4 linked regions of the Homo sapiens genome follow. The protein of the gene in region 1 purifies or fractionates together with the protein of each later gene. This does not show direct contact. Each region holds a gene or a part of one and is shown on either strand. Other genes may lie near its edges.

Region 1 (3,500 bases):
GCTTGAAATTGACCATGGTGGGACTACATGACATATCAATCATACTCTCTTTCTCTTACACACACACACACACACACACACACACACACACACACACACACACACAGTTTACCAGTATACCACCAGTTATAATGTATGCATTTGCTCAACCTTAGAATATACTGTCAGTTTTTTAAAATAGCTGTACAAATGTATATTCCCACAGGCAGTGAAAGCTCCAGTTGCTCCACAAGTATCACTTCTTCTTTGTTTTTTCTATTTTAGGCATTCTAGTGGATGGTATCTTACTGTGGTTTCATTTTGTGTTTCTATAATGTCTAACGAAGATAAACCCCATTTTCTTATGCTTATTGGTCATTTGCATATCATCTTTTGTGAAGTTCCTGTGCAAGCTTTTTGCCCATTATTTCTATTTATTTGCCTTTTTATTAATTTGTTAGAGATCTTTTATTCTTCTGCTCACAACTTTCCTAAAACCTACAAGACATGAATCTCACATTTCTATCTCTAATTCAGACCTTATGCCTGTACTCCTTAGTATTGCCTAACAGAAATGCAATCCCTTACCCCTCATTTCTAGATTTATCATAGGCTTCTCAAAATCATTATTTAATCCTGAACTCATACTTCACGTAAAACCCATTACTCCTTCTTTCCCTGAACTATTCATTGTATCATCAACCCTGTAATCTATGCCAGAAAACCTCTAAATCAACCCAGTCTCCTTCTCCACCACTATTTGGAGGTCCGTATGCAATGGCCCTCCAAAATGGTTACTTCCTTCTGATCTTTCCCTCTCCTATTACTAATACAGTTCAAACTTCATTACATATAATCTGAATTAATACAACAGTCACCAGTTAGTAGCATACTGTTCTTTAGAGTAATGTGGATATGATTATAATCCAATCAGGACATTTCAAATTTAAGGTTTCTCAGTAGCTGTCTACCAAAAGGATCAAGTCCAAAGCTTTTTTTAAATTCTTACCTAAATCCTGAATCTCTTCTCGTCTGATATCTCTACACAATCAATACAGAACACCAAATAACCAGAGTCCCACAAATTTACCATGCTATTTTATATTATTGCTTCTCCCCTATATTGTTCTTTCCTCCCTCATTAACCTGGTAAATCCCCAATCATTTTTAAAAACTGAATTTCTATATTTCCACCTAAAAGTGATTCCCCAAGTAAAGATAATCACTCCCTTTATTTATCCCAGCTCAGTATACTGCAATAATGTTCCATTTTAACACATTCCTCAAATCATTTCAATTTTTCATTTGTTTTTCTCAGTTGGAAGGATGCTTCCTGAGAGTATTCTGAGGTACATACTTTGTGTCACTAGTGGCTACAGTACTTAATACATAAAAGGTACTTACTTAATAGTTAATGAGGGAGAATGTAGGCAAGTAAAAAAAATAACTCATCACGCAGCCAAAAGGAATGCCACAAACTTGTTTTATAGCTTTAAAAATATATCTAATATGTGAGTTATAAAATGGTATCAGAAACTGACAGAGAACATATAAAGGTTACAATACAATATCTGGTTTCCACTTTAAGTCACATGGCCTTCAAGTGACATTTTTACCAAAGTGTTTCCAATGAATACTTACCTGAACACACAGTGGGATGTAATCCCCTCAAACACATATATTTCAAAAACTTGAGAACAGTATTTCAAAACTTTACCAACTAAGGTGGCTTATAACTACAATATTGAAGATACCAAGACCTTTCTTAAATCTCCTCAAGGAGACTGAAGTGTAACTCAGATAAATTGTGACCTAATGCATTATATTTTAGAGTGTGACAAAAAAAGTAGCGGGGTGCTTGTCATCTTAAAAAATGGTATCTAAGAATAAAAACTTGATGTTATTTTTCCAAGAAAAAAAAGATGTTCTAACTTGCCATCATAAATCTTTGATAGGACCTGCTTTTAACTGTCATAACTTTATTCTTTCCCTTAATTTCAAATCTGTTATCGTCTTTCTTTGTATCCTCCCTCCCTCCCACCAAAAAAGTCACCAGTTGCCAGCAGCTATGGTTACCGAATAAAGAATAATGAAAGCACTGGGTGACCTACTTAATGAATTGTGATTAATAAGGTTTGGGTCAATGTGATATACAAAACTAATAAGCAACTAATAAGGAAAGTGGTCAAATGTTACAAGTTGCAAAATATCTAAATATTTAGTATTTTCAATACTTTAATGTCTTCATCTATTGGCAATTCCATACTCCTTTTCCAAAACTCATACAGTATAACTTATGAGACATCCTTCCATCCCATCACCTGTTCTGTCAAATTAGAAAATGATACGGTATTAACTGATTCTATGGTATTAACAGATTTTAAGGTATCTAAGGCCTCCTGAAGAACTAGAAAGCTAGAGGGAACAATGATCAAACATGATTTTGCAACATTCTAGGATATTTTCAGTTAATTCAAGGTACCCTGCAAGATTTTTAAAATAAACTTCAAAATAAAAGAATCTAATTAGAACATGGAAATGTTTAGTGACACAATAAAGGCAGAATGAAAGTTTATATCACAGATGTTCTCACCACCTAATTTAGTGCAATAATAGGTACTTTACCAGTACTACATAAAATTACCGGGCATGTAGAAGAATGAGAGGATACTGTGAAACTAAATAAAATTTTTAAATGCCAAAAATTACTGCCATATACTTAAATAATAGATTATTTAATTTTAAACAAATGATTCACTTGAAATAATGTTCCTGCAAATATTATTTTCATTCACTGAATATTATTCCCCATATTTAACTTATCTCTTTCCCTTATATAGCTCCATTACCCAAAACTGCAGTCTGGTTCAAAGACCTATTTCCCTGCTTTCCCAAAGGGAAGTAAAAGTTCTGTCTATGGAAAGGAAGTATTTCTGAAATTATTACCATTAGTTATCTACCATTATTGGAAAATGAGCTATCCTGGTCAAATAAACTCTCTCTTTAACTGGAAAGCAAAACTTTCCTGGGCAAGGACAAATTCTGTGGTTGAGAGTTTTCTTGCTCTAAGGCACACAGAACTGTATTTTTAAATATTTTACCCTGAAGGAGAAATAAAGTGATAAGCATAGAAAATTCAAGTCTACGGAAAATGGAAGCGGGGAAAAGTTTTACAAATAAAATGTTACCAATTACAAAGTGTGAAGTGGTTATGAAAAAAACACCAAGGATTTTAGACACTTTCTAAGTTATCACTCAAATGTAAATATCAAGTTGCCTCAAAATCTCTTAGCTAGTGGAAGCAACTTAAACTAAAAATTTCAGACTTTATTGAGAAATGCCAAGCAATGGGGCTTGAAACAAATTGGTTAACCACACTGAGGACTAAGCTCTGATTTTTTAATCTTGCCCAAATTCCCACCTAAGGGGTCTGGGGAGTCATGCCCTACAAACCATAAATTCTCATCAGATGGGTTTTATTTAACCCTGTATATTGTGACTTACTTTTCAATCTGACTCTG
Region 2 (3,500 bases), 6.7 Mb from region 1:
AATATAGGACAGGATTAAGCTCAGTTTGAAATTCTGGTGCCTAGAGTTGACAACAGATATAAATGAAGTGAGATATTAGACGGATGGAGCAACTCACACAAGGGAAATCTGAGGTCAAAAGATGTGTGATCGGCCCACGGTCACACAGAGGATGGTGCAGAACTGACCCTGGTGGCCTCTGGCCCAGGAGATTCAATACTGACTTCTACTTCAGCTCCCAGGCTTCCTTTATTTCATGATCCAAACAATTGGCTGGGGACAGAGTCCTCTTAAGTTTCCCTTCACCCCCAACTGTCCAAAGGTTCAGAAAACAAGAACAATATTTACTGTATGAGTGCAGGTTGTCAGCACTGCAGAACTCTCTGGCACTGGGACCCAGAACATGAAGAACGGGACTCACGAACTCAGCTGAAAGGACTGTCCTTTATCCCCTCTGAAGATGCCACAGTCTGGAATTTAAGAAATACACGCTTCTGCTCAGCAGATGAACATTCTAAGGCAGTTGTTCTCAAAACGCTTTTAAAGCTGTGAACTCCTTTTTCCTAAATGGAAGCTGGGCAGGTGGTGAGTATGTAAGATGTAACTGTAACTAAGTTCCTACTGAGTGCTGTTCTCCCGGGTTTAGCTTAAAATGGGCCCCCTGGAATTTCGTCAGGCCTGGCTTTCTCAGGCTTCGTCAGTCAGCTCTAGGGGAAGTCAACTTGTAAAAGAGACGGAGACTTGGAAACAAACTCATCCTTAGGGAAGAGGGAGTCAGGCCAACCAGCTTGGGCAGATGTCAGAGCTTTGGTTGTGAGAAGACAGATTCTAGTAAGAGGCCAGTTACCTTGGGCAGACCCAGGCATCTCAGAGTTTTTGATGCTGGGCCATTCCCATTTTTCCACACTTTCTATATATTAAAAACAATTAAGCATCAAAACCCGTGACAAAAATTATAGTGCTTTAAAAACATATGTATTTAACAAGTCAACATCTGATAACAATGATTGTGTCTACTGTGATACGTATTTCCAAGGAAATAACAGGTTTTTTTGTTGTTGTTGTTTTGTTTTTTCTGAGATGAAGTCTCGCTCTGTCACCTAGGCTGGAGTAAGATGGCGCGATCTTGGCTCACTGCAACCTCTGCCTCCCAGTTTCAAGTGATTTTTGTGCCTCAGCATCCTGAGCAGCTGGCTAATTTTTGTATTTTTAGTAGAGATGGGGTTTTACCATGCTGGCCAGGCTGGTCTCCAACTCCTAACCTCAGGTGATCCGCCTACCTTGGCCTCCCAAACTGCTGGGATTACGGGTGTGATCCACAGTGCCTGGCTGGAAATGACAGGATTTTTAGACGTGTTCATTTATGGAGGACCACTTGCTCTTCTGTGTGGTCATGAGACCAGATTTAAACATAAATATCTCCCCTTTCAGTCCAGTCAGCGTATCTCTGTGACTGTACATTTAACCTCACTTGGAAATCACATCAAAAGTCTAGATTTGAGGCTTTTCACCACTGTGAGCACTGGGCAAATGGCTCCTCTGGGATCTCTTGGGAAGGGAAAAGGCTGCGAACATGGTGGGAGATGTTTCTCTGCAAACTCTGGGTGCTATGCATCGTACGCGGCAGTGGTCTTGCTCCTCTCTAAGGATGTGTCACCCAGAGAGAGCAGAGAGGTTGCCACAGACCCCCTCCCAGGCTCTGAAGCAGCAGCAGACACACGCTGCAGGAAGCCTGCCCTGCCAGGGCCTGGCAGAGCCAGACCAAGCCAGCCTGAGAGCAGCCGGCCAAGAGGTTGGGCCCATCTGAGCAGGCTGAGATTAGCTGGTGCACACCAGCATGCCTGAACCAGTTTTTACAGCCATTCTGATAGGTCGGTGCCTCTGTCCTAGTTGTTAAATATTCTCAACATCACCGTTCTCTCTGTCAGATTACCAACAGTTGCTGAAGCAGCTGAGAGCCCAGGAATAGGCCTGGTGGTAGCTGATAGGACCTGAATATGAGCCCACAGGGTATCTTTCCTGTGAATTCTCAAGAGGGTGGTCTTTAGTGGTCTAGAGCTTACACTAGTTGGTAGAGACAGAACTCAAAATACACTGAATCTACCTTGGAGCAGCCGAAGGAAGCTGAGATTTGCATGTGTAGATAAAAGATGAATCCACCAACTTGAAATTGCAATTTTTAATTGCTGTAGGTATGTAGGATTTTATTATTCATTCAAGAATAGTTCATTTTAGAATCACGGTTTCATAGGGAGCATTTTCTCGGTACTATCTAGCCTTTGGGTTAAAAAAGTTCTGAGAGCTCTAAAGGGCCCTCCATTACTATGCAACAGTTGAAACAGCTATTTACTCAGTGTATGAGCAAGAACGGGTTATATAAGATTTTAAAATTGAATAGAGTCAGAGCTCCTTCATTCAGTATTTTTTCTCATGAACAGTCTCCCCCAGAAGGATGAGTTATTGAAAAAATTAATGCAATGGAAGCCACTTAAAAGATACCAAGTTATGGTGATGAGAAAGGAAAAGTTGGAATTGGCTCCTTCCCAAGAGGCTATTTGACCAAATATCAAATGCGGATGATTTTTCATCCCTTCTTCCCTTCAAAAGTACTCAATATCAGTTAATGTCACTGAACGTGACATCCCCCAAAATACTTCCCAGCTGAAACTGAGTCAAATATATTACCTTTAGAGTAAATCATAAATTCAAATTTTTTTTCTGTATTATTTTGTTTTGCCTTTGCACACTGGTATCATTTTTCTTCCCATGTTGTAGCACACTTATTTTATGCATTTGCTAAATGACTATGCCCCAGTAATACTAATCATTCTTTTTAAAAATGTAAGACAGAGTTTTGCTCTGTCATCCAGGCTGGAGTATAGCCTCAGCTCACCGCAACCTCCACCTCCTGGGTTCAAGCAGTTTTCGTGCCTCAGCCACCCAAGAAGCTGGGATTACAGGCACTCACCACCACACCCGGCTAATTTTTGTATATATATATTTTTTTTTAGTAGAGACGGTTTCACCATGTTGCCCAGGCTGGTCTCGAACTCCTGGCCTCAAGCAATTCACCCGCCTCAGCCTCCCAAAGTGCTGGGATTATAGGCGTGAGGCACCGCTGCCCACCTAATTATTCTAAACAACTTAGTAGAAATAATAGTAAGACTAAAATAATTTATTACATCATTCTAGTTTTAGGAGATTTCATTATTTTTGAACAATGATTTATTTTATACTGTTTTGCCAAAATTCCACGGAGAAAAATGCAATTCTTGTTTGACTTTTAGGAATATATTTTTTAAGTAAAGCAAGTGTAATTTAATTTTAAACTGTTAAATTGTGATTGCCTTGGAAGTAGCTGCTTCTCAGACAACTCATGACTCAGGTCTGCCTGGCATCACTGGGCTCTGGAGCTGTTAGCAGTGCCCATTATTATTTTATACAAAATGTCTTGCTCCCACACACATTTCCACACTTTATGGAAGTTAGAGTTGGGAGTTATGAGTAATACTAATTAAAAA
Region 3 (2,919 bases), on another chromosome or scaffold:
AGCTTTTGATTATATTTTGTTTTTACTAAAAATCACTAGTTATGATTTAAGAGAACTGTCAAAATAGCTGAGTTACACGTGATAATGTTCTTTCCTTTCTGCACATGATGTTAGTTTGGTACAAGTTCTAAACAGCAACCAAGTTATTACCAGAAGTAGTCCATATATTGTAATCTTGATGATTGAAGTGTTACGTTCACTTTGGGTGTTAACTCTCACTGTTGAAGAAGTGACCATTATTTTAAGATGATTTACTTCCTGACTTAAATATAATATAGCAGTAGATCTTTGAGACAATGCTTTTTTAATATTGTCTTCTTTAATCTTTTTTATTATGTTTGGGCTCTTTGTGTTTTTGACAGGCCTTAGGCTACTTTCACAGGGCAGAACAAGGTAAGGTATTTTTGATTACACATATTAATATAGTTAAAATTGTATGAATGCTGAATATATACTATAATAGCAATGTCTAAAGCAGTTGTTTATTCTGTTATACTTATTTTTGTGCTAGATACTGTAAAACAATTTTTAAAGTCTTTATTCAGTAAAGATCACCTGAATGAGAAATAGGCTGCTATTGAACTTAGAGCTGCAGTTCTGGAATGTCTATCATTTGATGTAATTCTGCTTCCTTTGTGAGAGCAGTCTCTGACATGGTAATTGTCTTATTCAAGACTGCACATATTGGCCAGATGTGGTGGCTAACACTTGTAATCCCAGCACTTTGGAAGGCCAAGGCAGAAGGATCACTTGAACCCAGGAGTTTGAGACCAGCCTGGGCAACATAGCGAGACCTCATCTCTACCAAAAAATAAAAATAAAAATTAGCCAGGTGTGGTAGCACACACCTGTAGTCCCAGCTACTCAGGAGGCTGAGGCAGGAAGGTCACTTGAGCCCAGGAGTTCCAGGCTACAATGAGCTGTGATTGCACCACTGCACTACAGCCTGGGCCACAGAGTGAGACTTGTCTGAAAAAAACAAAAAAAGATTATGCATCTCATTAGAGGCATTTAAATGGGAATTCTGCTATTCAGCCAGGCTAGTTCTATTGCAGATATTGTGAAAAAGAGTTTCGGGTTATGTTTGTTTTGAAAAAATGACTAGTCCTATGAAACTGCCACCAGCCCATCCTAAATTTATCCTTTTTAATATTCATACACCAAGTGGGGGAGATAAGAGACATAAGCATATGATACCAAATAGACCATAAAAACCATTGAAATATATTCTATAAAACTTAATCAGGAGAAGACATACCATGTTTATTAAATTTGAGATCCCACACATAATGGACTTGTTCATTTCATGATAACAGTTATCTTCTACAGAATTTTATCTGAATGTTTTATCTCTGTAATTCATCAATTCTGATTTATTCATTATTACCTTCACTGATACCCTCTCTTGATCATACTGTTTCACATATCATGAATATGAATCTAGGGATGACTTTTTTTAACAGATTTAAAAGTTAATTACAAAGTAAAAATATAGGACCTTAGAGACTTAAGGGTTGGGGGTGTTGAGAAAAACATGGTCCTACCCTCATGGAGCTAAAATAATCCCTGGTAACTTCAGTCATTCTTGAGTGACCTTACCTTATTTCTTTCTGGCCTATATTCAGTTCAGAGGCTCCTCTGATGCCCTTAGTATCTTTTATTTTTCCAGTGATACTTATCACTCAATACTATGAACATTTACATGTGTAAGACTGTACATTCTGAGAAGATGTGGACTTTGTCTTTTCTGGCTCACAATTGCACACTCATTACTTGGCACAATGCTTGGCAAATCTGTTGAATGACTGAGTAAATAGATGAATGATCGGATGATTGAATATACGAATATATTTAACCCCAGGACAACTTAAGTATATCAACATGGCATCACACAAATCTGCTCAAATAAAAGAAGTAAAACAATTTTGGTTAAGGAGCAAATGGAGTTAATCATTAATTGTATACAGGAAAAAGTATGCTTTGAATACAGAGGATCTCAGATTGTTAGGGGGACACTTTGTGAAGAATTAAGTTGGTGAGATAATTCCATGTTTTCATTCATAGGCTTTCTGTTTATGCTTTTCTTTCAGCCAAGAATGTTCTCCACTTTTTTTTTTGGTTTCTTGTAGCAGTTCAAAGTTTGTATATCTAGTAAAGCATTCCTTTCATTTTTATATTACATTTAGTTGTGTTCATGTTTCTCTCTTCATTATAAAGTTGAAAAAAACAGAGGTTTTGTTTCATCCTCTATGTTTAAGTATAGCTGACATCCAGTAAATGTTGATCAAATATATATATGTCATCATCATTTCATTCACTTATTCAGCCGATGTACACTGAATGTATGTTATGTTTCACACACTGTTGTAGGCACGTGGGGTACCATAGGGAACTAAAGAGATTAAAAAGAGTATTGCTGTCCTCAAATAGCATACATTCTATCGGGAGCTTCAGCTTCTCATCTATAAAATGGAGATACCTACTTACAAAGTTGTGAAAATGAGAAATGTGTATAATGCAGTGCCTAGCACATTTGTAGATGTTTATTCATTGGTAATTATTATTTTACAAATATTTGTTTGAGATATAAACAGTTGAACAAAAGAGAATTCCCATTAGTCTAATCACTTATTGACCACACAAATTTATTGAAATTTAGACCTCAGAAACAAACCTTTAAAAATAAAAGCAACACTGTTTCCTCTGAGATCATTTTTTCTTTCTTATGTGCAGTGGATCCAAACTTCTACAGCAAAAACTTACTTCTTTTAGGAAAGACATACTTGAAACTACACAACAAAAAGCTTGCTGCTTTCTGGCTAATGAAAGCCAAGGACTATCCAGCACACACAGAGGAGGATAAACAGGTAAAACATCTCCCATAAAGTAAGGCAGAAAGGTTTTGAGGCACTATTAAAT
Region 4 (3,500 bases), on another chromosome or scaffold:
CAGGTCACGGTGCTCAGGCCCCTTCTCCGGGTTTCCCTGCAGAGTAAAAATGCGCCCCACAGCCAGGGCGAATACGACGTGTACAGCACTTTCCAGAGCCACGAGCCGGAGTTTGACTATCTCAAGAGCCTGGAGATAGAGGAGAAGATCAACAAGATCAAGTGGCTCCCACAGCAGAACGCCGCCCACTCACTCCTGTCCACCAACGGTGAGGCGCTGCCCGGCCTCGCTTGCATGGGCACAGGCCGTAGATGTTTCTACCAAATGCTGGTTTGTATTTCACTTATATTGTGAGCATTTTTCTATGTCTTCAGAACGCCTAGAAAATAATATCCTTTTTGAGCAGCATATAAATCCCATGAGTGAGTATGCCAGACCCCCTCAGACGCTCCCTGTGTCTGGACACAGGGCTGCCCCCCTTTTTGAGCAGCATGTAAATCCCATGAGTGAGTATGCCAGACCCTCTCAGAAGCTCCCCATGGCCAGACACAGGGCTGCCCCCTGCTGTGAATAGAGCCATCCGAGCCATCTTTGTAGGCCTTTGCTTTGGGGTGAGGGAGTGTGATGGACAAGGATGCAGGTCGCAGACACGGGGGATATTTGACACAAAGTGAACCCCTCCTCCCCACGCCGAATCCAGACCCCTAGACTGGGGCTGTCACCGCGGCCTTGCGGGGCAGTGGGAGGAGCCTTGGTTTAGGACCCCGGCCGGCCTCTTAATCCTCTTGCCTCAGGGAGGAGCATGTACCCCTCAGGCACCGGAGGCTCTCGGCCTGACGCCTGCTTCCCAGGCTCCACTCTGAGGGAGTGGCTGGGGCTGTCCTGCTTGGCTCACCATGGGCCTGGGTCCCCCACTCACGCCCCCTGCCCATCCTCCTTCACCTGGGCCCCCTGCGGACCCAGGCAGCCTGGGGTCGGGTAGGACACACCTGGATTCTTTTTTTTCTTTTTTTGAGAGACAAGAGTCTTGCTCTGTCACCCAGGCTGGGGTAGAGTGGCGCGATCTCTGCTCACGGCAACCTCCGCCTCCCGGGTTCAAGCAATTTTTCTGCCTCAGCCTCCCGAGTAGCTGGAATTACAGGCGTCCAACACCATGCCCAGCTAATTTTTGTATTTTTTAGTAGAGACGGGGTTTCACTACATGTTGGCCAGGTTGATCTCGAACTCCTGACCTCGGGTGATCCGCCTGCCTCAGCCTCCCAAAGTGCTGGGATTACAGGCATGAGCCACTGTGCCCAGCCAGGACACACCTGGATTCTGTCCCTGCCCTGCCTCCCTTGGGCAGTGACCTTGCTTTCCTGAGCCCCAGCAGGGTGGACACATCTCCCTTCTGGGGTCCGTGAAATGGTGCCCACTCAACCCCCTGAGAACAGTAACCGCTGCACAAGCACCAGCCAGGCTTCGAGGTGCTGTCCCCACGCCTTCCCCGAGGACGTCCACGCTCCTCAGCGGGGCCTCCAAGGCTCTCCCGAACATGGCTAGGCGCAGCTTCTGCCAGCCCGCCTGTGCCTGAAGGCTATCCTCGCCCTGTACCTGGCCAACTCCCTCCTCATCCCATAAGCCTTGCTGGGTGCCCGCCTTTTCTGACCTCTCCACTGAGCCAGGCATCCCTCCTGTGACACCCTGGCTCCTCTTAACTCCGGTTCACCCCCTCTCTGGGCACCTGCTGTTCTGATGGTGTTCTCCCGCCATGCACCTCAAAGGCAGGATCTGTGTCCCCTAAGGGGCCCTGCCCAGCAAATCTGTCACCTGAGCCAGCAGAGCATGAGAGATCCTCCCGAAGGGCAGGCCCTGGGGGACAGGAGCCTCGTCCTGTCCCCATGCACCTGCTCCTTTTGAAAATATTTAAGAAGGACGTGTCAGCCACATGCGGTGGCTCATGCCTGTAATCTCAGCACTTTGGGAGGCTGAGATGGATGGATTACTTGAGCCCAGAAGTTTGAGACCAGCCTGGGCAACGTGGTGAGACTCTATCTCTACAAAAAAATAAAATATTAGCCAGGTGTGGTGGTGAGAGCCTGTAGTCCCAGCTACTCAGGAGGCTGAGATTGAAGGATCATCTGAGACCGGTAAAGTCAAGGCTGTAGTGAGCTGAGATGGTGCCACTGCACTCCAGCCTGGGTGATGTGAGTGAGACCCTGTCTCAAAAGAAAAAAAAAAAAAGACATGTCACTTTCTTCCTGCCTCTCTACAGAAAAGGTCATCTTTCAGCACTCCCTACACTCCGCTCCCCTCAAAGCTTCCCACCTGGGTTTGAATCCTGGCTTCACTCTTTCCTAATGGCAGGGCCTTGGGTACCTTTCAGATGCTCCACTGACCCCAGTTCTCAGTTCTCTTCCCAGTTCCTTCTCATCAACATGGTGCTATTTGTTTTGACTCCTGTAGTAGTCAGGGTTCTCCAGAGAAAAAGAATCAGTAGGGTATGAGAGTGAGAAAGAGAAAGGGGGATTTATTTTAAGGAAGTGGCTCACCTGACTGCGGAGGCTGGCCGTTCCGAAATCTGCAGGGAGGCCGAAGGCTGGAGGCCTCGAGACAGAGCTGCAGTTCTGGTCCAAAGCCGTCTGTTGGCAGAACCCCCTCCTTCCCCAGGAGGTGCCTCATGATTTCACCTTCTAAAGTGGATCTTCTCTTCCATCCGGCTGCTTAATTATGTGACTCGCTTTATTTTGTTCTGTTTTTAAAGATAAAACTATCAAATTATGGAAGATTACCGAACGAGATAAAAGGCCCGAAGGATACAACCTGAAGGATGAAGAGGGGAAACTTAAGGACCTGTCCACGGTGACGTCACTGCAGGTGAGCTCCGGTGAGGGGGAAGCAGGCACACGCCTCTTTATTACACCTGAGGATTTTAGGGCTGGAAAAGCCTTTGAGATTTGAGCCAGAGTCAGGTGCAGACCCTGGTTGGGCTGCTGGCTGCTGGGCGGCCACGGGCGTCTTCCTGCCCCTTGCCTCAGTTTCCTCACCAGCAGCATACAGATGACCACGTTTCTTCTAGGCTTCTTGTGAGCATGCAGGGGTGGTGTATGGCTGTAAAGTGCTTTTCACCTATAGCTGAGGGTGGAGAGCAAGGCAGATAATCCCTTGTTATAAGAAGGGGGAAACTGAGGCCCAGAGAGAGACAGCAACTCACCTAAAACTGCTCAGCTGAGTGAGTAGGCAGAGGCAGAAAGAGAATGGGTCAGCAGAGCTTTGTGGCTCCTGAGTCCTTTACTGAGGGCAGAAGGAAGCCTGGACCGTGTGAGGCCTTCAGCATCTACAAAGGCCTGAAACAGACATACCCTGAAACAGACACACACGTGCCCAGCATCCAGTGAGCCGCCATAAATATAAAGCAGTAGTCAGTGCTCTTCCTGAGAAGAAGAAATAAATGTTTAAATACATTGGCCTAAATGACTGGCAAATTGCACAAATAAATTCTGAGGAAGTGGGCAGCCGATTAGCTTCGATGTTGAGTAATGAGGGTGCTGGTGCCCCCTGCCCCACCCCCCGTCCCAAGA

The links.
Region 2: the proteins of ECHDC1 (region 1) and SLC2A12 purify together in Homo sapiens (co-immunoprecipitation; one large-scale study listed by IntAct). This does not show direct contact.
Region 3: the proteins of ECHDC1 (region 1) and RMDN1 fractionate together in Homo sapiens (co-fractionation; one large-scale study listed by BioGRID). This does not show direct contact.
Region 4: the proteins of ECHDC1 (region 1) and PPP2R2C purify together in Homo sapiens (co-immunoprecipitation; one large-scale study listed by IntAct). This does not show direct contact.

The regions. Positions count from the first base shown.
Region 1 is NC_000006.12:127,333,610-127,337,109, forward strand, and holds part of ECHDC1 (ethylmalonyl-CoA decarboxylase), read right to left. Parts: intron 1-3,500. UniProt on the Homo sapiens protein: Decarboxylates ethylmalonyl-CoA, a potentially toxic metabolite, to form butyryl-CoA, suggesting it might be involved in metabolite proofreading. Acts preferentially on (S)-ethylmalonyl-CoA but also has some activity on the (R)-isomer.
Region 2 is NC_000006.12:134,046,125-134,049,624, reverse strand, and holds part of SLC2A12 (solute carrier family 2, facilitated glucose transporter member 12), read left to right. Parts: intron 1-3,500. UniProt on the Homo sapiens protein: Insulin-independent facilitative glucose transporter.
Region 3 is NC_000008.11:86,474,768-86,477,686, reverse strand, and holds part of RMDN1 (regulator of microtubule dynamics protein 1), read left to right. Parts: intron 1-362; coding exon 363-393; intron 394-2,090; coding exon of another isoform or gene 2,091-2,152; exon of another isoform or gene 2,153-2,293; intron 2,294-2,733; coding exon 2,734-2,867; intron 2,868-2,919.
Region 4 is NC_000004.12:6,375,115-6,378,614, reverse strand, and holds part of PPP2R2C (protein phosphatase 2, regulatory subunit B, gamma), read left to right. Parts: intron 1-42; coding exon 43-208; intron 209-2,683; coding exon 2,684-2,796; intron 2,797-3,500. UniProt on the Homo sapiens protein: The B regulatory subunit might modulate substrate selectivity and catalytic activity, and might also direct the localization of the catalytic enzyme to a particular subcellular compartment.